Homo sapiens: one gene and its partners. The protein of the gene in region 1 interacts with the protein of each later gene in a biochemical or structural test. Each region holds a gene or a part of one and is shown on either strand. Other genes may lie near its edges. The genes, in order: PRKCA, ATP1A1, HMGA1 and MGMT.

Region 1 (7,989 bases):
AACGGCATCACTTTTAACATTTAATGTTGGCTTAAGAAACCAGATCTTAGAAAATATAATTCCTATTGTTTGCATTTGAGATGACCACGATCTAATTTCTACTGAGAACCAATAGCATTCAAAGCACATAGGGAGGCTATTTTGTTCTTGTACATGACTTTAGAGAATTTACTCTGTAAGCAGAGAACCCTGACGTGGACGTTCAATTGCAGGTATTGTTCTACCAGAATGAACTGCATTAAAATTTCTTCGGAAGGTTGAGAGTCATAATCTCTTGCTTCACATAGAATGTTTCATGTACAAAGTATTTCACATACTTTTAAAATTAACTTAGAGTCATCCCCCCTACTAAAAACCATATCTAACTCTAAACATTTCGCTTAAAAATATCAGTGATTTAATATTGAAATAAACGTGTAAATCAAGGACCCCGTAGAAGCAATAATGAAAGCAAACTGAAAAAGACAATCCCCGTGGATGGTTTCCTGGGACTTCCAATTGGTTGGTTTACAATTAAATGCAGAGTGCTGCAGGGATCCTCAGGGGGGCATTTTCCACTTCACAATACTGGTGGTGACCTGAGCGCCTCTTCAGCTCACCAGGGGCTGATCCTTCAAGGGCAACTGATAGTGGAAAGACAATAGCTAGCCTCAGTATGCTGCAAGTCCCTTTCTAACTCTCCTACTTCCTGCAAAAGTCACCAGCAGTCTGTTCCCTTTTAATGGACTCTCACAGCTGACCTCCTCTTAACCAAATGCAATATTCTCTTTGCCCTGATGCTCCGAAATTTTTATTTTAAATAGCCTTATCTACGACTACCTACTCCTTTGAGCACAGTCGCTTCATATGCCGACTAGACAGTGGAAATCACTCATAGAGGTGGCTGTGCTTTTCATAAAAGTGTACTTGGGAGCAGATGTCTAAAAAGGAAAGGAAAAATTAAACACCTTATTCGCACCACGATCATGGGACCTGCCCTTTGGGATGTTTTTCCCCAGGTGTGATGGATTCCGACAGAGCCATCCATACTATGCTCACCCTAGTGGCCCAAGATACCTGTGCCACACAGCTGGCTGGTGGCAGGATTCACTCCGTGACTGCCACCCTGTGCAGCTCCCCCTGGCCTAGAAGGAGAGGGAGCTAAGAAGCCCTAGCCATAGCTCTGTCTTGCCCGGAACTTCCTACACCACAAAGAAGAGGTAGAAGAGTCAGGACGTCGGGCAACTTAAAAGAAAAACCAAACTACTGCTGCTCTAACTAGAGGACCTAGAGCTCCTTTAGTTCCAGCTTTCAAAACTTTTGTGTGGTGACGGGGATCTGGGAAGAAGGGTCACACACCTTTTGAGGATCAGATGAAAGCTGTAATTCTCTCACCAGGAAAAAGATTCACAAACACAATTTCCCTCAGTTTTACAGGGTTCAGAGACCCCTGAAGCCCTTCTATGTATCGATTCTCCATAAGCCCCCAGGGACCCTCCGAGTTAAGAATGCCTGAATTCATTGGCGATTACCTGATCTCTGACCTCTGGCCCTTATATTATTTTTCTTAAATAAGGCCTCTGCCCTCATCAACAGGGTTACAGGTCTAATCTCGAGTTGACAGGGTCTGTTTCATTTTTTTTGAGACGGAATCTCGCTCTGTCTCACCCAGGCTGGAGTGCAGTGGCCCGATCTCGGCTCACTGCAGCCTCCGCCTCCCGGGTTCAAGCGAGTCTCCCGTCTCAGCCTCCCGAGTAGCTGGGATTACAGGCGTGTGCCACCACGCCCGGCTAATTTTGTATTTTTAGTAGACGGGGTTTCACCATGTTTGCCAGGCTGGTCTCGAACTACTGACCTTAGGTGATCCGCCTGCCTCGGCCTCCCAAAGTGCTGGGATTACAGGCGTGAGCCACCGCGCCTGGCCGACAGGGTCTATTTTAAATGAGTCCCTCTGCCCTTGTGCCATTTGCCTGCTAGAACTCCCCCTCCCCCACTGCAAGCTTTCAACAGTTTGCTCTCTCTCTCTCTGCTCACTCAGAAAAGTCAGTCTCTCCGTGCCCAGTAGATGCAGCCTACAGTAGGCAGGGGCCCAAGATGCCAGCGCAGTCCAGCCCGATGGGAAGCACAAACACAACCCCCCCACCCCGAACGCGCCCAGCCTGGCTCGCCAGCAACTTGGACCGCGCGCAGTGCAATCGCCGCCGCTCCCCCGTTACTCCGGGGCGCGTTTCTCCGGGAACCTTTGCCCCCTTAGGGCCTCTCCTCCTCCCCTGTCCCCTGGGCTCACACCCCGGCAAGCGGCCGCTCCGCTGGGTGCGTGCGGGTGGGCGCGCCCGGGGAGGTGAGGGGCCCGGCCCGGAGAGGGATCCCCTTCGCCACCGTACGGGGCCAGCCTCCCTCTCGCGCCAGGGGGTGTGTGTGGCGGGACGGCGACGTCCCGGGAGTCCTGCCCGCCGGTGTCAGGGCCGGGCGCGCGTGTCACTCCGGGCGAAGAGTTCGGACTCCCGCCGGTTCCAAGTTATCGGAGTGAGCCAGCCCCGGGGCGGACGCGCCGGAGCGCCGGGTGCCGGGACCCGGAGGCGGGGAGGAGCGGGGCAGGAGTGCCCGGCCCGGCACCTACCAGATGAAGTCGGTGCAGTGGCTGCAGAAGGTGGGCTGCTTGAAGAAGCGCGCGATGAATTTGTGGTCCTTCACCTCGTGCACGTTCTTCTGCCTCAGCGCCCCTTTGCGGGCGAAGCGGTTGGCCACGTCCTGAGACGCCGTGGAGTCGTTGCCCGGGAAAACGTCAGCCATGGTCCCCCCCAACCACCTCTTGCCTCCGCCGGGGAGCTGCGGCCGCGGAGGGCCGGGTGGGCGGGGGCGGCGGGGGAGAGGTGCGGGCTCGGGGCGACCCCGGGCGCGGGGCGCGGGCCGGTGGCCGAGGTCGCGGCGAGGGGGCGCGGCGGGGGCCGGGGAGAGTCGGGCTGGTGCTGCGCGGAGCGGGAGCGGGAGCCGGAGCCGCTGGCTCGCCCGCTGGCCCCAGGCTCACTGACAGCCCGGTGCCCGGCGCTCGCGCTTCCTACTCGCGGCGGCAGAGGCGGCCCGGAGCGGCACCGCCCACCGCGCATGCCCCGAGCGCGAGGCCGCGAGGACGAGCGGCGGGGGCGCGCGGGCCGGGCGCGCGCGGGGGTGCGGCGAGGGTGCGGCGGCGGCGGCGCTGAGCGGACCGGACCGAGTGCGGAGGAGGCAGCGAGTGCCTTGCGGTGCTGGGAACACTGGGCAAGGGGAGGCGGCGGCGGCGGCGGCGGCGGCGGCGGCGGCGGCGGCGGCGGCCGGGGGAGGGCCGGCCCGAGTGGGGATGCGGGGGAGGAGGCCGGGAGTGGCGGGTCCGCGCTCCTCCGCCGCCTTTTTCTTTCCTCCCCTTCCTGCGCCCGGCTCTCCTCCCTCTCGCCCTCCTCCGCCTCAGTTCTCCTCCTCTTCTTCCGCTCTTGCCGCCCGGCCTCCTCCTCTCCCGGTCTTCCTTCTCCCACTCCCGCTCTCTCTCTTGTCGACGGGCTCGGAGTCCTGCGCCACCCGTGCCGGGCCGAGAGGAGCCCGCGTCCGGGAGTGGGCTCCACGCGCAGCCCCTGCCCCGGAGCCTCCCGCCCGGTGCTCACCTCCTAACCCCTCAGCACCCGCAGCAGGGAGCCCCTTCCCCATCCTCAGGACCCCCGGTGTCTCCAGGGCACGACGCCCGTGTTTTAGCTGCCTGTACCAGCTTGAGGTTTCACCTGGCCAAAATGTCACTTTCATCACGTGTGCACTAAAAGACCTAGCCCCTAGACCTTCCTACAGGAGGAAGAGAGCGATTTTTAAATAATTAAGCATTGACCCTTTCCCCTACCTTCTCTTCTTGACCTATACCTTATTTCACCTGCGTGTGGTAGAGACTTTTAATTTGTACGTCGGGCATTTATCACCACGTGGGATGGTTAAAGGACTTGTCTTAGGTATTTATCCCGTTATTCAATGGCCACCAGAGCGACGATGTTGATTATCAGGCTTTCTTGATTTTACAAGTCCAGGACCTTAATTTAGAAATCATTTTGCATCCCAAGCTAATTACTGCAATACTGTCAGGTGCAGAGTGCAGCCAGTACGTTTGTAACTTACCAAGTAAAACTGCCTGTGAAAGAGTAGCGGGCATGGCTATGCAAAGGACGCAGGTGGGGATGCACCAGCTAATCACTCGCTGAATATTTATCAGGTCTGCCTGGAGGCCGCTAAAATACATAAGGGAAATAATCATTTCTCAGCGTTTCATTGGTGTTTTGTTTTATTTGCCAGATTCACGAAATCCCCAAAACGACTTTACGAGCTAAAGAGACCAAGAAAGAGAACACGTTTGATCCTTCAATAAATTTATGTTGAAAAAAAAAACTTTTCTAAAATACTTTCTTAGAGCATGTAACATAGGCCAAGTAGAGCTAATATTGTTTTCTTTGAGATTGCCTAATTGTGATGCTTGATGATAGGAATGTCCTTTATATTTTTAACAAATGGAAGCTCTCCTGACTGGCCGTCAGTGGTGCATGCACTTGACTGATCCATTTACAATCTCTTGAGCCAGTCTTGGTGCTTCAAGAGCCTGCACCTGCCTGGTATTCTAGCTGGTCAGAAATTTCGCCACTCATGGTCGCCCCTCGGGTCCAAGGAGTCAAAAAGGGAAGAAGCAAAGAGGAATGAAGAGCAGGGCATGTTGGGGAAATAGTCCCAATTCTCCATGAAACACTAGAAGCATCTCAAGCCATGGTGGTTTATTGCTTGAAAGCAGAAATCAAATGGAACATAGTGGAATGAAATAATTTCTTTTCTCATAGTCGTCTTTTATCTAAGACGGAGATCCTGGCACATTTTACAAAGACAAGCTTATTTCTATGTCCCTGAGGCTTTCATAGGAGGATGGAGAGAGCTGGAGGGTGAAGTTGCTGATAATGGAATCCTGAGTAAAGTCATAGGAAAGACAAGAACAGAATGAGCCCTGGCAGCAGCCTGCGAATCTCCTGTGTACTCCATGGAGTGACTGTCTTAGCTGTCAGTAGATCAGATGGAACAATGTGTCTGTTTTCTTTTAGGTTGTGGCTTTGCATTCTTGCCTCAGTTGTTAGTGTTGTTCCTGGTGGGTACGAGGAGGAATGATTGACTGGAAGTCAACTGATTCATGGTTGGGCTGGGCATGAAAGCATCAATAGCCCACATCTTAGCTCAGTTGGGGAGAGGGGACTGTGCACCCAGAGTGGGGATTTATCAATTACCAAGCAGTGTAACACTGTCCCTAGCAAGGACTGATGGAAATGTGGGCCAGCATCTACTCCTGCAGCCTACCTGAAGTCCCCATGGTATAACTAAAATGGAGGAGATTAAGGACGGGAGAACCCCCTGGGTTGGGGGTAGTCAGTCAGTCATGAGGGCATGAGTAAATTTTATTTTCGAGTCTGCTATTTCATGGGGAAGGTGCGGGAAAAGAACAGGGAATGTCAGACTGAACGCAGAGTTTTTCAGAATCCGCTTCTGTCCTCTGCCTTTGAGGAGTAAGCTCAACACTGTTTGGAGAGGTGTCACCTAGACCAGGGGGACCCAGAGGCTGGAGGCTGGGATCAAAGTCAGACCACCAAACAGATGACTCAGAATCCCAATGGTTTGAAGCCAGCGGTCTTTCAGATACAATTTACAGCTTGCTGCTCTATGCAGCTAACTGGACTGTTTTCAAATGAACCAGGACATTTTCAAATTGGGCAATAGGAATTGCATAAGTATCGAAAAAGCATCATTCTGAGATTTATGGTAACCAAGATGACTTAAGGCTTATATTTTATTCTATGCACCATATTCAAGGTTTAGGAGAGGCAAGGCAACTGCCGAAATGCGTAAGCAGGCAGCAGTCAGATTCACTGTAACTGGCAGATCTCTAAACAGGTAGAGGTGAGGATCTACCTGAGTAGCAGAACACTAGAGTCAGGGGCCATTTTGGGGTAAGTTTAAGGAGCAGGGTAGTACTGTATAGGAGTGGATGAGTCAGATGCCCCAGTCAGAGGTTAGTTCCAAGGCTTCCAGGTCTGGTCCTGCAGGTTGCTCATAGCACAGGAGCTCCCAGTCAAGAGACTAAGTAGGGGCTAAAACTCAACTCGCATACTCCTTGCCAAGTGTACCTTTGGGCCTCTGTCTTCCCAGAAAAGCCACCATTTTTAAATTCACACCAAGGTACCACATGGGTTAATGAAGGCCCTGGTTGGTTGTGATTACAGTTGATTGATTCCAGTTGGTTGTGTCTCCACTGAAAGAGCTTCTGTGGGCAGCCTCCCTGGAGTTTGAGGCTTGGGGACTTTGCTTCTAAGCAAGCCTTCTTCTAGGATCTCTTTCTGTCTCCTGTATCTCACAGCATCACTAGTCCCTCAATGGCTCAAGTTGAAAACCTAGGCATCATCCTTATTCTTCCCTTGGTCTTACTCCCATATCCAATCCATGAGAAAGTTTAATTGGTGCTTCCTCCAGGACAGATCTCAAATCTATCCACCCCCAACCCTAGCCTAAGCACTATCATCTCTTTCCTGGGCCACTGCAGGACCACTTAATTGGTCTTCCTGCTTTCGTTCTTGCCCTTCTCAATTTGGACTCCACAAGTAGCCATCTTTTAAAAATGTACCTGTTTAAACCCACTTTATGTCTTGAATAAATGGAAAGATATGCCCTGTTCTCATACAGGAAGAGACATTGAAATGTCAGTTTTTCTTAATTAAACCATAAATGTAACTTAGCCCAATGAAAGTAGAATTTTTTTAGAAGTAAACAAGCTAATTCAACAGTCCAAATGAAAAAAAAAGTAGGAATAAATATCCCACCAGATATTAATCAAGAACAAAAAGAATAACAAGCCCAAGAAAAAATAATGGCAAATGTCGTGAACAGATAGTTCTCAGAAAAGGAAATACAAATAGTTCCTATGATAAAATTCTCAACATGTCTCATAAAAAGATAAATGTAAATTAAGATCATATTGAAACCCCACTGTGACCTAAGAGTTGGGCACACATAAAAAGTGTAAGGAACACACTGTTTCATTAAGGGTGTACAGAATCAAATGGTTTCATACATCATTAGCGGGATTGTAAATTGTCGCACACAGACATGATACAGAGCAATTTGGCAATAATTGTCATTTAAAAATGTATCAAACATTTTGATGCATGTACTTTTAAAAGGTTGATACATTTTATAAATGTAATCCTAGCACTTCCACTTCTATAAATGTATCTTGCATATATAAACGCACGTGTACATGAAGGCATATGTATAAAGGCAGCACTGACTCCAGTAGCAAACAATTATTAAATGTCTATCCACAGGAGATTAGTTAGATCAATTATGCATTCATTTGCTAGAATTATTTGCAGCTGTTTAAAAAATGAGATTTTTTTTTTTTTTAATTATATGTACTGATATAGAAATATCTTCCAGATGTATGAGTGAAAATGCAAAATGCAGAAATGTGCATAGAATGTTAGCATGTATGGGTTTTTAAAAAGATTATATATAAATATACATTTAAAATATCTGGGCTGGATGCAGTGGCTCATGCCTATAATCCCAGCATTTTGGGAGGCCAAGGTGAGAGGATCATTTGAGCCCAGGAGTTTGAGACTAGGCTGGACAATATAATGAGATCCGTGTCTACAAAAAATACATAAAAAATTAGCCAGGCATGGTAGCATGTGCCTGTAGTCTCAGCTACTCAGGAGGGCTGAGGCAGGAGAATTCCTTGAGCCTAGGAGATTGAGGCTACAGGAGCCAAGATTGTACCTCTGCACTCCAGCCTAGGTGACAGAATGAGACCTCATATCTAAATAAATAATAAATGAATTGCTTTTTAGCCAAAGCCATAATGCTTGAATTCTTTGAAAATTTCAAATCTGCCGGGCGCGGTGGCTCATGCCTATAATCCTAGCACTTTGGGAGGCCGAAGTGGGCGAATTGCCTGAGTTCAGGAGTTCAAGA
Region 2 (7,907 bases), on another chromosome or scaffold:
CTTAAATCACTACTCATAAGCTATGATTTATTTTTTCGGTAAATAATATTCAAACTAAATCCGGAATGCAGTGAAAGACCTGGTGAGACCCCCCCTCCTCATCTTTTACACACTTGAGAAGACAAACTTTCCCACATTTCTAAACAGTTATGGCGTGTACCTTTGGTGAGTGAAACAGTTGCCGGTGGTAGGCCTAGCTGACGGTTTAAGCCAAGTCACTGGCAATAAAACCCAGAAAGAAAAAAAGGGACAAAATCCTATTTCATCCAGGAATGATTCAGCAAGAGCTGTTCTTTCATTTTCTTACCAAATGCTTAGGAACTAGACTTTTAAGGACATATAAAATCACCTGAAATATCATCAAAAGCTAGGCCACAAAGGGTACTGAGGAGAGGAGGGGAAGAAATTTACAATGACCTTAAAAATTAGCTGCCGGCACAGGCTTCCTTGTTAGCCAATTATCAGCAGGGCTTTAGTCACTCTCCACCCACATTTTAATCCCCATGTGGAAAAATCCCAACATGAAATATTCTTCTGAACATTTGGACGCTCACAATAAGTCACAGGACAAACACACACACAAACACACACACAAGTAAACTAATGTTTAATGTATCAGAATACTCAAAATGCTAACTACCACCCAGCAGCCAAGCAGCTCATCATCCCAGTGTTCGCAGCTGTAATTTAATCTTGTGTTTGCTAGCCACTATACATTTTGTTGTAAGACATCTGGGTTTAAGCTCTACTAACTATTCAGGTGGGTTACCACCGCATCACTACTGTGCATGTGTGCCTGTGTGTGGTTATAAAGGAGACATCTAGATAAATGGACATAACTTAGTTACCCAAACCATCTCCATGGCCTATTAATTCAACATCACAAATACCCCGTTTCATCCGAAGTTCTGAGTTCTGTATAAAGAACTCAATGTTAAAGAGTAAATGCATGTTCAGGCTTGAGGCCACAGGCTGTTCAAGAATCAGGGACGCCTAGTCTGTCACTAGCCAACCGTTTGACCTTGAGCAAGTCACTTCACCTTCCTAGGCTTGGGGCACACATCTGTGATGTCTAAACCCCCCAAAATTAGCTCAGGAAGTAAACTTTTTTCTTTTTCTTTTAAGGCAGGAGAGACAAAGAATGAGCTTTAAAGTGCATGTTTACAGAAATGATCAAGGGTTTGACGGTGTGGTAAAAGCACAGGCCACTAACCCAGACTCCATCAGGGGAATGGAGAGGCCCTGTACTCCGCTCTTTGATGCCACCTGACCTGGACCAGCCCTCCACGCTGCATGCTTTTAAAAGCGAGGCGAGTTGTGCATTTCCACTTGTGCCTGTTCTCCCCACCAGGTCCAAGCCTTTCAATTACCTCCTTTAAAACTCCCTTAGAGTCCCCAAGGAGTGCAGCCTCCCTCTGCTCCCGACACTCTGTCTACACCCAGAAGCCTCAGGGCCTTCAAAGACCTACTCAGTGTCTGCACTGTGCTAAACCCTGGAGACAACGAAGTGGATTCTCTCCCATTTGTATTCTCATGACATGGTCACTTTCACCCCATGAACTCCGAGGTTATTCTGTGTAAATTTTTCTCAACTAGACTTTGGCTCATTTGGGGTCCAGGGCCCAGTCTCCTGCACGGGTAATAGCTAGGGGTAATCAAGTCTTCGCTACAGAAATGTAGGACAGCGGCGTTGTGACGATATTCCCACCACGCTCCGCGCCGCTCTCCAGCCCCAAGACCCCTCGTTTCCTTCAGGGACCGCCCTTTGGTGCTTCCGCGACGCTGGAAACCGGCAGAGATTCCTACCACCGTATTGCCTGCAGCCTCCAGTCCTTTTTCGGGTTTCTTGTACCCTGAGGCCCTGGTGGGTCTGCCTATCCTCCTTCAGGGCTCGTCCCTTCAAAAAAAATCTGCACGCCTCTCCCCACCATCGGATGACAACTCCAGTTGCCATCGGTGCATCCTGTGTTTACGGAAAGTGGCCCAAGAAAGCCCTCAAAAGTATACCTTAAAGGCCATCTTAGGGCAGTGAAGACACACCCTTTCTGGCACCAGCCCGCCCAGCCGGCTTCGCACTTAGAAGCAGCCAGTTTTTTCTTTGGGGGAGGGCGGCCGCCTCTGCGCGGAGCAAGCTAAGCCCCAGCGTCCCCAGGAGAAGGAGCCCCGAACCCGGAGGCTGCCCCCGCCGGAACCGGGGCCGCGGCGGGAACGGAGGCCCGGGAGGAGGCCCCGGCGGAGCGCCCCAGGGGAAGGGGAGGAGCGCGCCTTTCCTCAGGGCACGGAGGGCGGAGGGAAAAGGAAGGAGAAGGAGGTGACGGCGGTCGCAGGGAGGGGAGCCAGGCTCAGGGATGCCGGCTCAGTCCCGGGGCCGCCCCCGCTGCTGCAAGCCCCCTCCTCCCGGCCCCGAGGCTTCCCAAGCACCGCCTCTCGGAGCCCCCGGCCCGCTCGGCCTCCGGGGCGCGCAGCCCCCGCCCAGGGTCCGCCCACCCCCCTAAGCAATGCCGCGCTCCAGCCCCTCGGCGCTCCCTTCCCCCGCCCCCCGTTACTGCGCTCCCTCCATTTCCAAACTGCGTCGTCTTTTAAGCCGCGCGGCTCTGCCAGCCCACTCCACGCGGCGCCGCTTCCTCCTCCGCCGCCTCCCGCTGGCCGCGGTCGCCCTCCCGACTTCCTCCTCTTCCCCTCGAGGGCTCCCCGAGCCCCCTCCCCGGGCGCGCCGGACACTCACCCCCTTCCCCATGGTGGCGGTGCTCAGTGCCCGGCGCCGGGTCCTGTCGCTGGAGAATCAGAGAGAAAAGCACAGAGCAGCTCCCGGCCGAGCGAGCGGGACCAGGGGAGCCAAGTGGAGGGAGCTAGGGCTGCCGCGGGGCGGGAGGGTGGGAGGGCGGCCGGCGGCTCGGGCCGATGCCGCCGCCGCTGTTGCTGCCGCCGCCCGGGCTGCTACCGCTGTTGCCACGTGTCCGCCTCCTCCCGCCGCTGCTCTGCGCCCCAGACCCCGCCGCAGCTCCAGCCCGCGCCTCCTCCTCACTTCCTAAAATATGCAACCTGCGTGCTGGCCCCGCCCACGCCGCGAAACGTCACCGTTACCGGAGCAACCTGACACCGGCCGTGGGCCTGGCTCCGCCCCCTCCCGAAACCCCGCCCACGGGCCCGGACAGCGCCTGCTGCGGCCAGTCCTGGCTCCCGGCAGGAGGGCGCCCAGGTCTGGGACAAGCGTGTCCACCGTGTCCCGGGAGGGCTGCGGGGCGCTCCTGCTGGCTGAACAGCGGGGACTCGGCGGCCTTGGCCCTCCCACGCCCCTCCTCCCGCTGCCCTGCATGACCCGCCTACTATGTAGGGCCCAGGAGGTCCGCAGTGGGTGCGGTACGGTCTCGGAACTGGGCTCCCCCAGTCGCCGCCGACCCGGCACCAGAAGTCGTGGGCGGAACGGCTTTTCCAGCGCTTCGGCGATCTCCTCTGGGACTCAGGGATGCTGGAGGGGGCTGGCGCTCGGGTGTGATTGCAGCCAGCGCCTGACTGAGGGACTCCGCCCCTCTGTGGAATCCAGGCCCCGCGCCCACCTGCGGATGGCCTCCCCGGGCGCTTGGTGCTCTCAGAGTGCCTCCTGTGACTTGGGGTCCTCTTTATCCACTTCCCGCTCCGTCATAGCTGGAATCGATCTGAACTGGCATCGCCAGAAGTTTCAAGCGCCCTCCTCCCACCACCTCTCTTTCTTCGAGATTCCAAAATGAGAATCTGAAGGGCGACCAGCGAATTCATTCACGCTATTGTGTGAATGTAACCTGCTTGTCCAGTTTGGGGATTCTCTTTTTAGGGAAGAAAAACCTGAAACCCAAAGGAATGCGTATCCTTAGCTAGAGGAGCTAAATCAAGGGGGAGGCGTTTGAGGACTTGCCAGGTGCCTCTCCACGCCTCCACCTGTCACGGCAGCATCTCCAGCACAGCCTTGGGTTCTCTGGGGGGGCCCAGGAAACCACCACTCTCCCCGGAGATCCCTGGTTCCACTGCACTTTGGGGCTTCTCTGTCATTATAGCTTTTGCTTCTTAGCAAGAGGCTGCAATGGCTGAAGTTCTCCAACATTTTAAAAAACAAAGTATTATTAACAAGGTTTGCAGGAAGTCAAGTACTCTGGGAAAGGCCAGGATATTGACTTTCTAAGCAAAGGTTCCTAAGTTAAAGCCAACTCTATCAACTTCAAGTATTCATGTAGCATGAACAAACAAGGATATGAAACTGGAAAAAATGGAGAAGGAAGGAAAGAAAGGAAAAACTAGAAACTGTGTTGTCAGTTACATCATTAGGGTAATTCTCATCCCTTCTTACAAGATAGTTTCTTACACGAGTCTCTTCTCCTCAAGAATGTATTGTTAAAGGTTGATGTCTCCTACAGTGATCTAGAGACTTGGTTCAATCATTCTAGGCCATAGAGAGCAGAGGAATTGTAAATAGAATTCAAAACCCTGACTGCCTGGAGAAGAGCCCCCAAATTCAGAACAGAATTCCTTAGACTGTTAACAGAGGGTTACAGAGTGTTCGGGGATCCATCTCTAAGCTTCTAGAAAATGCTTTCTTTACATGCTTGATAGCCTCAGTTACTGTACTTTGTAAGATGCTTTTGCTTGCTAAAGATAGCTTGTTTAAGATTAATTACTCCTGGGCCAGGCACTGTGGCTCACGCCTGTAATCCCAGCACTTTGGGAGGCCGAAGCGGGCGGATCATGAGGTCAGGAGATCAAGACCATCCTGGCCAACCTGGTGAAACCCCGTCTCCACTAAAAATACAAAAAAAAACTAGCTGGGCGTAGTGGCACATGCCTGTAATCCCAGCTACTCGGGAGACTGAGGCGGGAGATTCGCTTGAACCACAGAATCGGAGGTTGCAGTGAGCTGAGATGGCGCCACTGCACTCCAGCCTGGTGACAGAGTGAGGATCCATCTCAAAAAAATAAATAAATAAAAATAAAAACAAAGATTAATTACTCCTTGGGCCCTGGTCTGAATGGGAAAAGTGCCGCGGCAACAACTAAATATATAAAGCACGGGTCGGAACAACGTAGATTTCTCCTGCCAGCTGATCTCCTTTTTCTCCCCTCATAAGTAAAATTCTCATTCATTCACTCAACAAAATAACCCTGATAGATCAAGGCACTTCCCTTTGTATCTAGAGCTATTTATTTGGCAACTGAAAATTGCTGAAGGTCCTTTCAGGAGGATCCCAGAGTTCTAGCTGTGTTCCGGTGTGAAGAAAGGGCAAAAAATATAAGAAACATTATCTTAAATCTGTATTTTGCTTTTGATGCCACACAGTAATTTCAGATGCACAGTGCCCTTGAATTCTCACAAGTCTTTGAGGTAAAGAAAAAGGTAAGGCATGACCAAGTCTGAGGCGCAGAAGGAAATCTCAGATATGAGAGAGACACCTTGGAAAATGGGTAAGCAAAGGAGGAAAAGTCCTTTTTTTTTTTTTTTTTTAAGAAAAAGCCTTCTTTTCTTCCCTTGGAAGAGTGGCTTCTGAATGAAATGAAACCTTATAGATGAAACATCAAGCTCCCTCATTTTATGATGAAGAAACTGAGGCCCAGGGAGTAATTGGTATTGAATATTCCAAGAATAGTGGCAAGACTTTCAGGTAGCTTTTCTAACTCCAGTGCAGGGGACAAATTTGGATTCTAGAAGAGAGGGTGAAGAAAGCAAAGGCTCTCTATTCTGTCTGCTGCTTATCCTATCAACTCTTTTCAAGCTTCTAACTTGGGGCACAGTTAAACTGATTGGCCTGGAGACTCAGCATTTATAGACCTTAAGGCTGCCAAGTATGGATAGCTTCGAGGAGAATTTGATCACAACTGTGGATGGTTGCTCCAGTCATTGTGAATAGAGTCAGCAGATGTATGAAAAATATGATGCAAGTCAGTTTTTTGAGCCAAGAACGCTAGCACTTTGAGTATTTGCTGAATTGAATAAACACATCATTGCAATTAAAGGCTTTAAAATATGAGTTGGAGCCCACACCAACTTAGCATTTTCCATAGGACACAAAAATTTTGGGGATCTATGAGCTAGAGATCTGGAAGGACAGAATTTTCTTTGGCTTTGTGTGCTCCCGAGTTAGCATGGAAACAGTCATAAGCATGCATCTTTATCCTTTACCTATTTCCCACATTATCCAGAATTTTCCACGTTACCCAGAAAGCCACTCTTGCTGCTTTAAAGTCAACTGTCTTCATCATTCAAAGTTCCCCCTAGCCATTATCTGTGCCTCCATTGCAAATCTCTGTGCCTCCATTGCAAATCTATTTCCTTTTCTTCTGTTCAGCAGCAGACATATCACCTGTCTTTAAAAGCACAGTTCTGGGTGCATTGCTGACTATCAAAATCTGTCAGCAAATAATTCTGACTCCTATAACTTTTCCTCCCAGACTCTCCATTCTTACCTTTTTTTTGGTTTGTTTTTTTTGAGATGGAGTCTTACTCTTTTGTCCAGGCTGAAGTGCGGTGGTGTAATCTCGGCTCGCTACAACCTCTGCCTCTCGGGTTCAAGGAATTCTTGTACCTCAGCCTCCTGAGTAGCTTGGATTACAGGCACGCACCACCGTGCCAGGCTAATTTTTGTATTTTTAGTAGAGACAGGGTTTCACTATGTTGGCCAGGCTGTTCTCGAATTCCTGACATCAAGTGATCTGCCTGCCTCAGCCTCCCAAAGTGCTGGGATTACAGGTGTGAGCCACCACGCCGAGCCATTTCTTTCTTTCTTTTTTTTTTTCTTTGTTTTGAGACGGAGTCTCGCTCTATCGCCCCAGAATGGAGCGCAGCCGAGCCATTTCTTTCTTTCTTTTTTTTTTTCTTTGTTTTGAGACGGAGTCTCGCTCTATCGCCCCAGAATGGAGTGCAGTGGCGCGATCTCGGCTCACTGCAAACTCCGCCTCCTGGTTCAAGCGATTCTCCTGCCTCAGCTTCCTTAGTAGCTGGGACTACAGGCGCCTGCCACCACACCTGGCTAATTTTTTGTATTTTTAGTAGAGACTGGGTTTCACCGTGTTAGCCAGGATGGTCTCGATCTGCTGACCTCGTGACCTGCCCGCCTCTGCCTCCCAAAGTGCTGGGATTGCAGGTGTGAGCCACCGCGCCCGGCCCCCGAGCCATTTCTTAATCCTTTTGAAAGCTCCTTAGTATTCTTTTAAACATATTTTCTCCTGTTAGTGGTGGTTGAAGACTTCAGGTTGTGCCTCTGGGAAACTGGGAAATTTGAAAGAGTCTGCATTTACTTGGTAACTATTGTAGGTTATCACCAACCACAACAGAATCAAGTCCTTGGTGTTTTACTCAGCATCCTTTTAACCCAGCTGCCCTTTAAATAATTTGCTGTTATTAATAGCGGTCTTCGTAAATAAAGCAGTAATAAAGGATTCTTTAGTTGTTTCCTGTGTGTTTTATACCAGATCCTGAGCCAGGATTCTGCCTTCTCCTTTAGCACTCTCTGCCAATACAGTTCTACTCCCCTTACCCTAGTTCACAACACTATGTGATGTTACAATATCCTACATTTAAAAACTCACCAATTGTTTTCTGCAAATCAACAACTACCGAGGCATTGCAACAAAAAAAAAAAAAAAAAAAAAAGAAAATCAAATGGTAACAAAGAAGGGATCTGGACTGAAAAATATTCCACTGCCAGAGTCCCATCTTCATCCAACCAGCAGAGACACAGCTTCAGGCAGCCTTACAGCTCAGAAAGGGCAAGCCCAAAGCTGGGAAGAGGTGGCGGGAGGTAACTGGCATCTAACCCTTCCTGCTCTCCAGGGGGCACAACCACAAGCACTAAGGAAATAAGTGCCATCATCGTGGTGGATAGATTTGCTATTCTTGGCCTTAAACTCTTCCATGGAAAAACAATTGAGAGAGTTCTTTGGAA
Region 3 (7,826 bases), on another chromosome or scaffold:
CACAGGCCCAAGTCCAGCCCCATGCCAAACACCCTACTGCTCCCACCTGCCTGCTTCCTAGGCCTCCTGGGATGCTCCACCCACACCCTGGGCCCCTGCCCTGTGCTTCCTCAGGCTGGCATTACAGCATGTACCACGCTGGTGGAATTGCCTGTGTACTTGTCTATCCCCTCGTGCACCCCACTCAATGCAAGCCCCTTGAGGACAGGAATGTAGCTACCCATTTCAAGGCCACACCCTTGGTGGTGGTACGTGGAGGGATCCATCTGGCCAGGCTGGGAGGAGGCAGCAAGCCCATCCAGCCTGGGAATAGAAGCAGTAGAGCGGAAAGAGGCAAAATCCTTAGCTATTTATATTTAACTGCCCCAAGACTTGTTTGGTTATTTTTTTGAGAGGGAGTCTCACTCTGTTGCCCAGGCTGGAGTGCAGTGGCGCCATCTTGGCTCACGGCAACCTCTACCTCCCAGGTTCAAGTGATTTTCCTGCCTCAGCCTCCCGGCTAGCTGGGATTACATGCACGCGTCACCAAGCTCGGCTTATTTTTGTATTTTTAGTAGAGACGGAGTTTCCCCATGTTGGTCAGGCTGGTCTCGAACTCCTGACCTAAGGTGATCCGCCCACCTCAGTCTCCCAAAGTGCTGGGATTACAGGCTTGAGCCACCACACCCGGCCAAGACCTGGTTTTAATACCTGTGAAATGGGGCAACAGTATCACTCACCAGTAGGGATGTGGAGGATCTGAGAGAACATGTGCATTCAGTATATGCTTATCAACTCCACTCTCTCCTTAGATTTCTTCAGGGGTTGGAGAGGAGCTGGGCTTCCTTGGGGATTTAGCCCTGAAGAAGTAAGCTGACAAGTCCATGGCATCTTGGGGCCATGCAAGGTGGGTCATTAGCTCACAGTAGGAAGGCGGAGAGGGCCCTGATTCCTGGGCCCTCCTTTTCACTTGAGAGTTTTTCCCTCGAAAGTTGGAAGCAGCAGAGGCCCTCCTCCCCTTCTAGGCCTGCCAGCCTTGCTGGCAGCAGAACTTGTGGTCAGCAGAGCCTGGAAGCCTGATCCTGCCAGATGACCAGATGCACTAGTAGCTGGGTGACTCTTGAGGAGAGTGGTCAAACATTGTGTACCAGGGTAGCCCCACCTCCTACCGGCCTGGGTCAGTCCTGGTTGATAGGGGCCAGGTCAGGTTTATGCCTGTTGTCTGGCCATAAGTATTAATAGTGCCGCTTTCACTCTGAAGTGCCCTGCTCGTCTGCTGAAGCTGAGCATACACATCCTGTGATCCAATAATTCCTCTCCTAGGCACGTACGCAACAGAAATTTGCACATCTACTCACCTATATTCTAGAACATTCATGGCAGCACTATTCATAATAGCCCCCCGCCAGAAACTATCCAAATGTCCTTCAACAGAATGGATATAAAATTGTGGTACATTCATATCACATCACTAAGCAGCCCTGAGAATGAACATTCTGCAGCCACACACAATAGCATGGATGAACCTCACAGACATAAGGGTAAGCAAAGGAAACTAACCCAGGAGAATACATAATGTAAGACTCCATATCCCTACGTGTGCACGAACAGGTGAAACGAAGCGCTGCTTAAGTTGAGATGGTGGTTACACAGGGGTACTGGAGATGTTGTATTTCTTGGTCTGCATGCTGGTGACACAAAGGTGTTCACTTTGTGAAAATGCATCAAGCTGAATACTTAATAGAACTAAATGGAACCATCCACATTAGTTTTTTCACCTACTCATCTAGAAAATGAGCTTAAGAGTCAGCGTCCCAAAATATAAAGTTGACTCAAACTCCCCATTCCCTGGACATTCCCATTGGGTTCACTGAAGCTCACTGGGTCGTCCTTGAGCAAACTGTATAGACTGACTCCAATAACAGAAAATGCTTCCTGTGGGGAAGACGGGTTCTGGTATCGACCAACTCAACCCCCCGGGCCTTGACCATGTCCTTGGCCTGGAATAGCTCCCTCTTCCTGCTTGCCCTGTCCCCAACTCCTCAGCCACCCACCTATCCAAGTCTCACGAAGGCCTGCTCAAGCCCGTCTCCTCCAGGACTTCCCTGACCACCCTGGGCTCCCATCCTCTCCTCCTGTATTTCCTCCTAAGTCTGTAAGCGCCTGACCCCTTGGTCCAAGTTTCAAGAGTGCAGGGGACTTTGTTCATTAATTGTACCCCAAGAATTTGGCCCAGTTCCTGCTACAGAGTAGGTTCTCAATAACTACTGAATGAAATGTTTTCTAACATGGCATCTCCTGTACTGCTATTCAGTTTTCTCTAGTGCAGGCCTGATTCTGATTTCCCTAGACGTGAAATTCGCTGGGACAAGGACTAGATCCTACCCATCTTTTTATCTCTACCACTCGCTCTTCTGCTTAATACTTATTTAAAGGGGAAAGAAAGGAAAGACAGTGAATTCAGGGCATTGACAATCCAGAAAGCGTGGAGGTGGGGGTCAGTGAGTAGAGAGTTATTTGGATTTCAAGGGTGTGGGTAATCCTGGAGAGGAACAAGCTACTATATTTATTTGCCTACGAATTTATTTATACCTGCCTCCTTCCAGAAAGGGTTTGAGGTGGCTGACAAAAATACACACAATACAAGGTAAAAAACAAGTCGCTGAGGAAATCAGGCCGAGAGGAAAATAAGAGTAGGAAAAATAAGATCGAGTCGGCTTGCTACAAGTGGGCCAAAAAGTTGGCCAAGTTTTCCACAGCCCACTCGAGGCGGAAGTCCCTCTCCCCTCCCCGTCTCAGGGGCGGCCACACGTCCCACACGGACGGGGAGAGATGTACCCGAGAGAGAGGGCGGACAGGACCCTCTCCGCACCTCCCCAGCCGCCAGGCCGCCAGCCCGGTGCCCGGGCCTAGCAGCCTCCGCGGCCTTGGAGAGCGCGAAGTGGAGGGGCGCGCGGCTCTGGGGGGCAGCCCGAGCCCAGACCTGGGTCCCAAGGTGCTGGCGGGGAGCCTGTGACCTGGGACGGGGTGCTGGAGGCTGAGGAATCGCGCCTCCATGCCACGCCGCAGAGGTTCCCGCGCTCGAAACCGAACGCCCTCCAGCCACCACCACTCACGGCCTACTAAGCGCGCGCTCCGGGCCCAGGGCACAAAGATGGAGGGAGCGGCGCGATCCACCCGCCCCACCCCCACCCACCAGACAAAGGGGCAGGCCGCCCCTCCCCCAGCCTTCTTCGCGGGCCCCGCCGCCCTCTGCTCCCCTCCCCTCGGGCCGCCCTTTGGTGACTTCCTTTCCCCTCCAAGGGCGGCCCCGGGACTTCTCAGGAACTGCGTTTCACCTGGACGTGGGGCGGGGAGCCGGCGCGCAGAGGGCGGCCTCCGGGCCCACCCCTAGGCCGAGCCGGCCCCAGGCCCGCGCCCTCCCCTTTGAACCCGCGCTCCCGGCCCCTGGCGCCTTCCCGCCCAGGCGCCCCCGCCCCCACCCGGTCAAGCACGTGCTGCCCGGGCCCCGAGCGCTTCCCGCCGCACGGGTGGGGGCTGGGCCCACCCCCCGCCCGCTCCCCACCCCCACCGGAAACATTCCTGCCACATTCCTGCAACTGCAAGGCCCAGCCCGCCGCTCCCCACCCCGCCTCCGCGCCGGGCCCAGGGCTTTCCTGCGTCCCCTCCACCGCCGGCTCGCCCCCTGAGGAGGGGGCTGGGCCAGGGCCTCGGCTGACCGGGGAGGAAGAAGGGGAGCAGAGAAAAACATGAGTCACAGCCGTGTGTCACTGGAGCGCATTTCAATTCCCTGCATCACAGGAGGTGTGGAAGGCCGCCTCGGGGACCGGGCGCGGGAGGTGCGCCCGAGAAGGCCCCGGGCCGGCCTGCAGGGCGCGCCGCTCCGCCTGCGCCCTTTCCTCCCCCACCGCCCTCCCCGCCATCTTCCCCTTTGGCTTCCTTCTCGCTCGGTGCAACAAGTCTTTGTTAAGCCGGGCGCCGGGCGGGCCAGGCGTGGCGGAGATGGCCTGCGTGCTCGGCCCCTGCCCTCAAAGCGCTTCCAGGCGACCTCTGGCCCACCTTTTATTTTTATTTACAGTCCCAACGGAAGGGCCCAGGTCCCCAAGTGGGCCTGCGTATCTCCAGAACACCATCTAAGTCACCTCAAGGTATGAAGCCTCCCTTGGGTGTACCTGCCAACGAGCCAATCGTTGGTTTCGCTGGAAGGCTCCACCTTGATCATGGCTCGCTGGTGGCCATTAATAAAACACTTTGGATTTCACAAGTTTCACGTTTGAATTTCACAAGACTTGTATCTCACCAATCAGCCACACGCGGGTTGACACTGAAAGGCACATGCTGACACCTGTCCGCCCAGGGGAAATCTACCATCTCTCTATTTTAGTTAGGGGGCGGCGTGTAGGCCGCGGAATTCTCTAACGAGCGCGTTTCTCTTCACCCCCTGGGCCCGCGTGGACCCCCGTCCACCCCCACACGCCCTGGGGGGGGGGCCGGGCCCACACGCCCTGGAAGCCCCTAGAGGTGACTCTCCCTGGGACCCCTGTACCAGGGAGGAAGGATACCGCCACCCGTCACCACCCCCCGCCAGAAGCTCCTTCGTGACTCCTCTGCGCGTGCCTTCCCACACCTCCTCCGTCCGGGACTGCGAGGAGTGGGCGGTCGACTCGAGTTCGCAGCCCAGGCCTCCCACACGCCCCTCCCTGCCGTCAGCACCCACCCGCGCGGCAGCGGCGGCGGCGGCTGGCGGGCGGCCGCCCTTTTAAATCCCCGGGCTCATTTGCATGGCCCCGCCCCCTGAGTGACACGGCTGGCGCGGGCGGGCCCGTCCCCCCTGCCCCTGGGTCGCTCTTTTTAAGCTCCCCTGAGCCGGTGCTGCGCTCCTCTAATTGGGACTCCGAGCCGGGGCTATTTCTGGCGCTGGCGCGGCTCCAAGAAGGCGTGAGTTCGCGGCCGCTCCGGTGGCTTCTTTTTTTTATATCTATAATTTAATTAAATTATTTATTTATTGAGGCCGCGCACGGGCCGTGCCCAGCTTCCTGCCCCTCGCCATCCTTCGGGGGAGGGGGAATATTTTTGTCCCCCCGCCTGGCTGTGACACATAAATACCCCGCGGGGGCCTGGGCGGCGAGCACGCGGCGGCGGCGGTCTCTGAGCGCCTCTGCTCTCTCCCGGTTTCAGATCCGCATTTGCTACCAGCGGCGGCCGCGGCGGAGCCAGGCCGGTCCTCAGCGCCCAGCACCGCCGCTCCCGGCAACCCGGAGCGCGCACCGCAGGCCGGCGGCCGAGCTCGCGGTGAGTCGTCCCCGGGGCCCGCGGCGGCGGCGGCGGAGGGGGGCGCCCGCGCCCCCGCCCGCACGTCGCCCCTCCTGCGAGCCGCCCGGGGCTGCAGCGCGCGCCGCCGGCTTTATTCCCAGGCCGGGGCGGCGCGAGCCGGCGGCGGGGGAGGGCCGCGCGGCGCGGGGGCGGGCGGCGGGGCCCGGCGGCGCGGGGAGGACGCCCGCACCCCTTCCCCCGCGCCGCGGGCGCCCTGCGGGGGGCGGGGACCCGGGAAAGGCGCGCGGTGGGGGAGGGGGCGCGCAGCTGCGGCGAGCGCGAGTTGTGCACCCGGCGGAGCCCGGAGGAGCCCGGCGCACCTCGCGCGGCGGCCGCTCCCGCTGGAGCCGGAGCCCGAGCCCGAGCCCGGGCCCGGGTGAGGGGCGGGGAGAGACACGGGCTGCGGCGCGGCAGGAGAGTGGGGGGTCGGGCGCCCCCCGCAGCTCAGGGAAGTTCTGGAAGTGAGGGAGATGGGGAGGAACCCCCAAATTCGGCCCTACGCCCTCTCGGCCTTTCTCTCGCGCCCCCTCCGCAGATGAGGCCGGAGCGCGGGCCTGGGTTTGGGGCTTCACCCCGACCCCACCTCTGGCCTGGCCCGCGCCTCTTCAGCCCCAGGGGCCGGGCCTGCCCTCCGCCCCCACAAACTGGTTTCGCTGCTTTGCTGGGCTCTGTTGGAACTAGTCCCTTTGACTCCCCGTTTCTATTTTATTTTCTTCTGGGGCTTTATTTTGCGGGGAGGGGACGGAGGGAGGGGGCTTTCTTCCTCTCCCCCGCGCCCGCGCGCGCCAGGTTTCCTGCCCCAAGGCGGGCTTGGGTGCCCCCTCTGGCAGGAAGTGGGGCCGGGTGCACCCGCGTGGCGGTGCATGCGGTCGGGGTGCGCTGCTTTCCCGCGCCTGCAGGAGCGGCCTGCGCCCCTCCCCCCGCGCGCCCTGGCCCCGGGTCCCGCCGGCCGGCCTGCAACGGCCGGGCGCAGACACTTGCAGAGTCACCCTCGGGCCGGGTCTGGAGCCTGATGCCTCGGGGGTTTAGCCCTAGCCGCTAGGCGGGTAGGCAAAGTGTCGGGTTGAAAGGGTCTCCGGGAACCTACTTCTTCCTGCTCGCCAACTTGCTGTGTGACCTTAGGCAACTCAAGGCTTCTCTGGGCTACTTTTTTACGGGGGACGGGGAAGAAAACAAGGGAACCCCCAAGATAATTTCCTAGGGCCTTTCCTGCAGAGTCCTTAAGTATTTGAGGAGCACAGTTTGCATGCACAGTGTATGGAGGAGACAGGCTTGAGGCCCAAGCGGGCTTATTACAAAGTGAGGGATTGGGGTTAGGCCCTAAATGTAGTTCCTCCAAGACAGGCCTCTGATGTTCAGAAACAGGTGGAAAAGACGAACGTTTCTTGGCCTCACTGGAAAGGGCCTCGGGCCTTCATTTAGTTCGTGGGGGGTTGGCTGAGGGGATTAAAGGGTCCCCAGCAGCAAGAGGTGGGGGGAGGCACCAGATGGTATGAGAGCTTCCAGGGAGACCCGCCAAGATCTCCAGGCAGGCCGGGCCAGGCTCTCTGGGATTCCGGACTGGCTTCGCCCAACTGGAACCCCCTCGATGAGGGGGCCCCAGGCAGACCTTATATGAGGTCAGCACTCGTTTAGTTGATTAATTTTGATGTTTAGTTTGAAGGGGGACCTGTGGTGTAATATAAGATTCTAATCACTGCCTGTAATTGCAGAGCAGGCCAAGCCACTAATGACGGAGCAGGATAAATCACCAACCACCTTGTTTAAAAGGGTCTCCAAGTCTGAAACATTATAAGATAGAATAATTACCAAAGTCCTGCTGTCTGGAGGGTCTCTTGATGCTTGAAAATGGAGGTCCTGGGCCCTCTAGAAATCACAAGTTTGCAAAAATGTTTTTTTCCTCTCATTGGGGTAAAAACTCTTTTTCTTCTTTTTTTTTTTTCTTTTAAATTAGACATGGGAGTCCCACCGTATTGTCCAGGCTGGTCTCGAACTCCTGACCTCAAGCAGTCCTCCTGCTTTGGCATCCCAAAGTGCTGGGATTACAGGCATGAGTCACCTCACCTGGCCCATAAATCATTTTCAAATGGTCTAGTTCTTATTTTGGTTAGAGTGAAGATTTCTTTCTATTATTTTAAGTTTTTCTAAACTATTACCTAGTTTGATCCTTGAAGCAGTCAGGAGGTAGTTCAGGCAGGTACCTTATAATTACCTTGATCTTACAGATTGAGAGGGGTTCAGAAGTGGAGCCGCTTGTCCCACCCCTTACCATGGCAGGCAGGGATTGGTTACTGGAAAAATGTGTAGCCTAGGCCTCCGGCGTCTCATCCATCTGTAGCCTGGGGATAAGGACTAGGATGAAGATGTGGAGGACTGTCCTTTTTAAGCCTGTAATACAGGGTATTCCCAAATACAGGTTGCAGGCCCTCCTTCCAATGAGAAGTTTTAGGAAAACTCAAAATTGATGGGGTTAATTAAACCCCAACAGGCCTCTAAGAAGAAGGAAGATGCTAGAAAATGACCAAGAAGGTTTT
Region 4 (7,027 bases), on another chromosome or scaffold:
GCTAACAGCGTAGGTTCACAAAATCCTCATGCCAACCAAGGACCCTCCTGCACAGCTCAAACCTCCTCCCTCCCATATAAATCCTTTCACTTCAAAACAAGAGTGGGGCGAAGGGCTGGCTTGTGCATCATGAGTGTCTATATAAAGACCACTCTCACCCCACAGTCAGGTGATGGTTTATGTGTCTTCTCTGATTTTAAATCCTTCAGGTTTCGTTTAAATAATATCCTGCGAGGCCAGGCATGGTGGCTCATGCCTATAATTCCAGCACTTTGGGAGGCCTAGGAGGGAAGATCACTTGAGTCCAGGAGTTCGAGACCACCCTAGGCAACATACGGAGACCCTGGCCTCTAAAAACAACAACAACAACAATTAGCCAGGTATGGTGGCGCACACCTGTAGTCCCTGGTACTTGGGAGGTCAAAGCAGGAGGTTCGCTTGAGCCCAGGAGCTTGAGGCTGCAGGGAGCTATGATCTCACCACTGCACTCCAGCCTGGGCGAAAGACCAAGACCTTGTCTCTAAAAATAATAAAATAATATTCTGCGGTAAGACCCCAGCTCTTTCAGAAAGTAGCTGCATTAAAAACTACTTGTCCCAGGAAACAGAGGGTCAGGAAGGACCGTAGCAACAGCCCAAGAGCCGAATGAGCACAGGGCCCTGCAGGGTCTGGGAGGCTCAATGTGTCCCCTGGAGGGACTAGAGTCCCAAACGGAAGTCAAAAATCTCAGGGCAAGTGGATCTGGACATGGAACTTTATGCTGGGGAAGGGGGTCAGAATGAAGTGCAGAAACAAGAATAATGCTAAAGGAAAAGATAATGCAGAAAATTCAGTTTTGCCTCCATTTTTTTTCTATCAAAGAGAATATACTGAAAAGAGCATTAGCACCAAAAAGAAAAATGGAAGGTCTGAATCACTGGCTCCTAAATGTGTGTCCTCTGCAAAACAGAACAGACAATTTAGTAACTTTATTTTATTATAAAATACTGAAAGAGTCAGGGTTTTGGTGTCCTAAGAAAGGGTGGGAAGAGGACTGGAGAGGAACAAACTCTGAGGGGGCAATGGGGAAGGCAAGTTCTTTTTCAGGCCCTTCCTACCCCCTTCTTCCCTGCAAAAGGACAGAGGAGGCCCTGATTGAGACACCTGGGGAGGAAACCCAAACAACGAAAAGTAAGGCCCAGGTGATATCAAAGTAAGACCTCAACAAGGTTCAAGAATCTGAGCAGCTGAACAAGGTGCTACCCAATGTATACCTAGGGCTCTATTTCTTTCAACCTTACTAACAGCAAAGCCTTTTTAAAGTAGTGCCTAATACTATTAGTTAAATCCTTATTTTGATACAGATTTTTTTGTTTCCCCTTCAGGACAGTTTCACTCTCGTCGCCCAGGTTGGAGTGCAATGGCGCAATCTCGGCTCACTGCAACCTCCGCCTCCCAGGTTCAAGCAATTCTCCTGCCTCAGTCTCCCAAGTAACTGGGATTACCAGCATGCACCACCACGCCTGGATAATTTTTGTGTTTTTAGTAGAAACTGGGTTTCACCATGTTGGCCAGGCTGGTCTCAAACTCCTGACTTCAGGTGATCCACCCACCTCGGCCTCCCAAAGTGCTGAGATTACAGGCGTGACCCACTGTGCCTGGCCCAGATTTTTTTTTTTTAATGAAGATATATACATTGAAAAGTACCTGAGTATAGCTCCGTACTGGTGGTCTACTTCATCCAGGCCCCTGACTGTGGCAGACACTACTCCACTATTCAAATTCCAACCCGAGACAGAGGGCCCAGGAAGAAAGACACGCGGCAGAGCAAGGCCAGCTCTCCTCTGCTACTTGCAGGCAGACTCCGGGTCTGGGCAAGTATCCTGGCCCTCTGAGTTAACGTGATATTAACAATCAGCCAGGCTCTTGACGCGGTTTCCTTCAAAGTTTTCACACCCCCACCCACCAGGTGCGCTAAGCTTTGGGTTTTTAAAATCTTGTTCATCTCCCAGAGTGTTTTAGCCATTGAGAGGGCCCTGAAAATAACAAAACCATCTCCTAGACACCTGCCCAGGGATGGGGGAGATGACGGGAGAGCCTGACTTAACAGATACTCTATAGGTTTCTATTTGGATGTCTATGTAAATAACCAGTCTAATTCTCAGCTCTCTGTGCTTAACATTCTACTGAGAACAGCTCTCTGGACCAAGCCGCTTCCCTGTCTGATGATGATCTCAGCAGGCATAGGTTGCACACACATGTACAAAGTCTGCTTTCCAGGACAGAAAGCCAGCTACTCAGCTGAAGCAACTGAGAGCAAACACCACCCTGAGATTTCAGGAGATGATGAACCCAGGAGTGCGAAATACATAGTTCAGAACTCCTCTGCGGTGTTATAACCGACATTACGGTGCCCAGTGTGTGTGGCTCTCCAGCGAGCCTTGCTTACTCTAAGTGTTGATGAATACAGTTAGGGTATGATGTACACAAACACCAGCCATAGTAACCAGAAGGCCCCTAGAACTTGGCCTCCAGCAGGAAGGAAATATGGGACTCTGCCTAAGTATGCTAAAGGGTTGCTGCAAGCCAAGGCCCGCGCAGGGGCTTCTGGAAGCTTCCTGGAGCAGCTGGCGGAGGGAAAGCTGGCAGCATGGAAGGGTAGGAAGAACCCGGGGCCCGGGCCTGGGGCTGGCACCTAGAGGTAAGGCAGGGGCTGCCACGACCCCCGCCACACGCCAGTCCACAGTCACTGCAGCGCAGCCTAGTCCAGGAACCCCAGGCCCGGGGAAAGGCTGGGCAACACCTGGGAGGCACTTGGGGCGCACCTGGAGCTCGCCCGGGATGGGTGGGGGTCAGGGCGGCCCCACACCCGACGGCGAAGTGAGGGCGCCTGCAGGACCACTCGAGGCTGCCACCGTCCCGAGGGAGAGCTCCGCACTCTTCCGGGAGCGAGGCGACCCAGACACTCACCAAGTCGCAAACGGTGCGCACCGCGAGGACCTGCGGGCGTCGGGACGCAAAGCGTTCTAGGGGCGCGGGCTGTCCCAGCATATCCGGGGCGCGGGGGCGGGGCCGAGGGGCACGGGGATGGCGGCGTGGGGCGGGGTCTAGAGCGGGGCGGAGCCGAGGACCTGAGAAAAGCAAGAGAGCGCGCGGGGGCGGGGCCGGGGCGCGCGGGGGCGGAGCTGGGGCGGAGCCCGGGAGGGGCGGGGTGTTCCCGCCCGACCGGGTCGGCGCATGCCCTGTGCGGCGGCGCCGGGCCTGAGGCAGTCTGCGCATCCTCGCTGGACGCCGGCACGCCGGCCCTGGTCCTCCGGCAGCGCCGCTGCCCTGTGCGCCTGACCCGGATGGCCCTTCGGCCGGTACAAGCCGGGCGGCGCCTTCCCAGCTTCCGCCTGAGGCTCTGTGCCTTAGTTTGCCAAATGGCCCGTACCTTTTCCTGTCACAGGGATAGTCCGCGGGCGTGCAAGCGACCTGCCACGTGCCCGAGTGGTCCTGAAAGCGCGCGGGGGTCGTAGGACGGCGCCCGCTTAGTGAGAATCCCGGTCCTGCTCGGGGCGGCTACGCTGAGCCCGGAGCGCGAGTCTCTCCCCTCCTGGTGCCGCTCCCCTAGTCAGGGACCCCCAGACCAGCAGAGACCCTGTCAGGGGGCCGTGGGGGCAGCCTCCAGGGCCTGTGGTGGGCGATGCCGTCCAGGGGCTGCAGTCACCGATGGCCTAGACACTGCCAGAGCCTGACTCAGCCGCTCTCCAGAGAGCACACAGGGTGCCAGGCCCTGCTTGGGGTTGTGTGGACGTTATTAGGAGTTGAATTGTGTCCACCAGAGAAGCTATGTTGGAGTCCTAACTCCCAGTACCTCACAATGTGACCTTATTTGGAGATGGGGACTTTACAGAAGCCATCAATTAGTGGGCCCCTCATCCAGTATGACTCGTGTCCTTATAGGCAGAAGGCCGCTTGGGGAGGAGGATTGGAGGGCTGCACCTGCAAGCCACCAGAAGCCTAAGAGGACAGACCCTTCCCTGGAGCCTTCGGAGGGAGCAGAGGACACTCTTCCCTGGAGCCTTCAGAGGGAGCAGGATCCTAACACACCTGGGTTTCAAACTTCTGGCCCCCGGAAGTGTGAGACAATAGGTTTCTGTTGTTTTAAGCCACTCAGTGTGTGGCACTTTATTATGGCAGCCCCAGGCAATGGGTACAGAAACCATTGTCTCTAACGTGGTTGGCATAAGCACCCCAGGGAGTAGTATCATCCCTGGAGGCTTCGGAGAGGTCACACACCCCTTGGCAGGATCCCATCCAAGGCCCACATGTTCTAAGCCACCATGCTACGGGCCTTCTAGGTTCTGTTTGTTATCTTAATGGAAAGGGGTCTTCACCTTCCCGGTGAAGTTTCCCTGTTGGGATTCGGCCAATGCTCATACCTTCGTATTTGTGACTTGCAGGATCCAACATATTAGCATGAGTGATAAGGGTTGTTCAGAGGAGAACTTCAGCAGGATTTGCTTTGGGATGAGCCCTGGTGACAATACAGGCTGCATCATTGATCCTCTGAGGTTCCCCACCCCGACCCTGCCTTGGATGAGACATGTTTTAAATAGCTGCTTGTGGGAAATAAACTAGGCCCTGAGTACACGATATAATGGTCAAATCAAGGCACTTTTTCCCCACTGAACCTGGACACAGCCTCGGAATCCTTCTCAACACTGTGTTCCAAGCAGCCATTCACATTTAAACTAATGTGGAAGGACAGATGAAACATGTTTGCCCTTGGCTCTGGTTTTTTCCATTAGCCTTCTATAAGACTTCGGGAAACTCGTCTGACTTCTCTAATCCTCAGTTTCATACTCTGTAAAGGAGTCTCATGATAACGTACCCTACGTGTGTACAAACTATCCTTCCATATTAGGGCATGTGTGCATAGGGAAAATAAACCACCAGCACCACACCACACTACTAAGAAATAATGCTATACACCTGGCCACTTACAGCCTGTTACTACCAGGACCCAGTTAGAACCGGGATCTTAATAGAACCAAAGGAAAAACAATGCCGAAATGGAATCAGAGTGCCGACTGATATTCTAACAAGTGTGCTGTTAAGTAGTTTTGCAGTTAACACATGACTCATACGTTTATCTGAATAATATTTTAAGACGAATCCCTAAACTCTTAAGAAAAAGAGACTGGCCAGTCTTAGCATCTCTAATTCCCCACCCTAGGAAAGAAAGGCCAATGTGGTCATCCAAAGGCCCTTTAGGAGGGCCCTGTGGGAATGGGGAGGCGGTCCACGAGAGAAAGTGCTGGCTTCCCAGGGAGATGTGTGGACCTGGCCCTGGCTGTACTGAAAGAACTCAGTCCCCTTGCTGGCGTGGTGGGAAGAACTATGTGAAGGGCCACAGCTACTTCAGTGGTAAGGACTGTGTCAGGGGCTCCAGGATCAGGAGCCAAATAAGGGTCTCAGTGCAGAGGGGAAAGAGGAAAAAGGCCACCACCTGACCAAGGACTGGCCTGCAAAAGACCAGGATTCAAGGATGTGACTGCTTAGGCTGTCTGATGAGCAGAACTCAAACTCACACTCCTTACACCTGCTGGTGCAAGCTCCTCCCTTCATCATGGTAATTTCAAAAACCCAAGTTTTCATCAAGAGCTCCCCACGCCTCTCCCCCTTGTCCCATTACAATCTCATCATCGCCTGTGTGTTCGTCCTACTGTTAAAGGAACACAGGATGGCTCCAAAGCCGGGAGGTCGCCGGGTCCACTGAAGAGTAAGGAACACAGGACAGGGAGGCTCGGATGTGGTGCCAGCCCTGCCCCTCACTGAGCAACCACCTGACTTCTCTGTTCATAGGATGACAGTGCAGGACTGGTTGGGTGAGATTCCTTTGAGGTCTCCCATCTTCAGATTAACAAATCACAACCCCTTTTCCTCCAGACACAGATTCCTATGAAGAACTTTTTACAAAAGAGGTGGGAAAACCACAAAAGGGTATGCTCAACTGCAGTCCGACTTCCTCAAGGAGCTCCCTGGATTTCCTTTAAGATCAGCCAGCTTTCTTGTGGGCACTGGGAACAATGTTAATCTGCATAGTTTCTTTAAACATCCAAATGGATACCTTTCGGGTTAAGCAAATGAACATGACATGCGATTGCTTCTAATGATTTGCAACCCAAGAAATTTGTTTAATAAGCCTGTCTTCCCAAGCTACTTTTGTGACATTAGAGACCACTTACAACAAAGCTGCCTTCAGTAGTCAAACTTAATCCTTACTACCCTACCTTTGGGAAATGAAGGGATTTTATAACGATCACATAAAACCTTATGTGGTTTGAAAGCCCCAAACTCCGGACAAATGTGTGATGGTCGTGTAACAAAAGAAACATATTACAGAGCTCCCCACGTTAAGTGTTTTACATATAGTTTGCTTTTAGGATAGCATCTCAAGTGGAGGGTTTTGCTGATTAACACAATTGATTTTCTTAGTCCCAGTGTTCCTGTAAATGTTGGAGCCAAGAGCTGGAGTCAGCGCCTTGGACCTGGGAGAGGCCAGGAGGCCAGGGAGCCTCAAGCACTCTGGAGGAAGAAGCCTGAAATGAAAAGGTGGGGGCCATCGGTACCGGGGTTGAATGCCAGGTGCTTCTGATTACGCTCCTGTGTGACACTAGTTGTCAGCATGGCAGAGGCATCATGGTGTAACTGCAGCAGGGAGTGTAATCTACTAGTGGGCAGGAGAGAGGGCGGGAAGGAGGGACTTCAGGCTTTGCCTCACATAGAGGGTAAGGGAATGGTGCAGGGTGGAGAAAGGGGATGGAGGTGCAACTAAAACAGGAGGGGCTCCTTAGCTCTTGCTTTCCTCCAAAGAGGCAGAACATCCTCCTGCCAGGAGCCCCTGGGAGCTCCTGTTGAGAACTGGAACCCTTCAGGCCCTTTTGTGTCAAGAAGGGCATGGAGGAGAATTCCTAAAGAAACGAACCAGAGGCAGCCCACAGACTCCTATTAGAAAGACTTTTCCTGAAACTTCCTTTGCCAGTTTGTGGGTGCAGGGCCT

What was found.
Region 2: of the proteins of PRKCA (region 1) and ATP1A1, one has a biochemical effect on the other in vitro, tested with the Homo sapiens proteins (one study listed by BioGRID).
Region 3: of the proteins of PRKCA (region 1) and HMGA1, one has a biochemical effect on the other in vitro, tested with the Homo sapiens proteins (2 studies listed by BioGRID).
Region 4: of the proteins of PRKCA (region 1) and MGMT, one has a biochemical effect on the other in vitro, tested with the Homo sapiens proteins (2 studies listed by BioGRID).

Annotation. Positions count from the first base shown.
Region 1 is NC_000017.11:66,297,635-66,305,623, reverse strand, and holds the start of PRKCA (protein kinase C alpha type), read right to left. Parts: upstream 3,012-7,989; 5' UTR 2,773-3,011; coding exon 2,600-2,772; intron 1-2,599. UniProt on the Homo sapiens protein: Calcium-activated, phospholipid- and diacylglycerol (DAG)-dependent serine/threonine-protein kinase that is involved in positive and negative regulation of cell proliferation, apoptosis, differentiation, migration and adhesion, tumorigenesis, cardiac hypertrophy, angiogenesis, platelet function and inflammation, by directly phosphorylating targets such as RAF1, BCL2, CSPG4, TNNT2/CTNT, or activating signaling cascade involving MAPK1/3 (ERK1/2) and RAP1GAP.
Region 2 is NC_000001.11:116,368,342-116,376,248, reverse strand, and holds the start of ATP1A1 (sodium/potassium-transporting ATPase subunit alpha-1), read right to left. Parts: upstream 3,006-7,907; 5' UTR 2,738-3,005; coding exon 2,726-2,737; intron 2,383-2,725; exon of another isoform or gene 2,020-2,382; coding exon of another isoform or gene 2,008-2,019; intron 1-2,007. UniProt on the Homo sapiens protein: This is the catalytic component of the active enzyme, which catalyzes the hydrolysis of ATP coupled with the exchange of sodium and potassium ions across the plasma membrane.
Region 3 is NC_000006.12:34,232,047-34,239,872, forward strand, and holds the start of HMGA1 (high mobility group protein HMG-I/HMG-Y), read left to right. Parts: upstream 1-4,826; 5' UTR 4,827-4,835; coding exon of another isoform or gene 4,836-4,917; exon of another isoform or gene 4,918-5,157; coding exon of another isoform or gene 5,158-5,271; intron 5,272-5,368; coding exon of another isoform or gene 5,369-6,334; intron 6,335-6,744; exon of another isoform or gene 6,745-6,911; intron 6,912-7,826. Other genes in the region: translation initiation factor IF-2-like, read left to right, coding at 4,200-4,210, 4,529-4,684, 4,836-4,917, 5,158-5,271, 5,369-6,334. UniProt on the Homo sapiens protein: HMG-I/Y bind preferentially to the minor groove of A+T rich regions in double-stranded DNA. It is suggested that these proteins could function in nucleosome phasing and in the 3'-end processing of mRNA transcripts.
Region 4 is NC_000010.11:129,463,219-129,470,245, reverse strand, and holds the start of MGMT (methylated-DNA--protein-cysteine methyltransferase), read right to left. Parts: upstream 3,006-7,027; 5' UTR 2,950-3,005; intron 1-2,949. UniProt on the Homo sapiens protein: Involved in the cellular defense against the biological effects of O6-methylguanine (O6-MeG) and O4-methylthymine (O4-MeT) in DNA. Repairs the methylated nucleobase in DNA by stoichiometrically transferring the methyl group to a cysteine residue in the enzyme.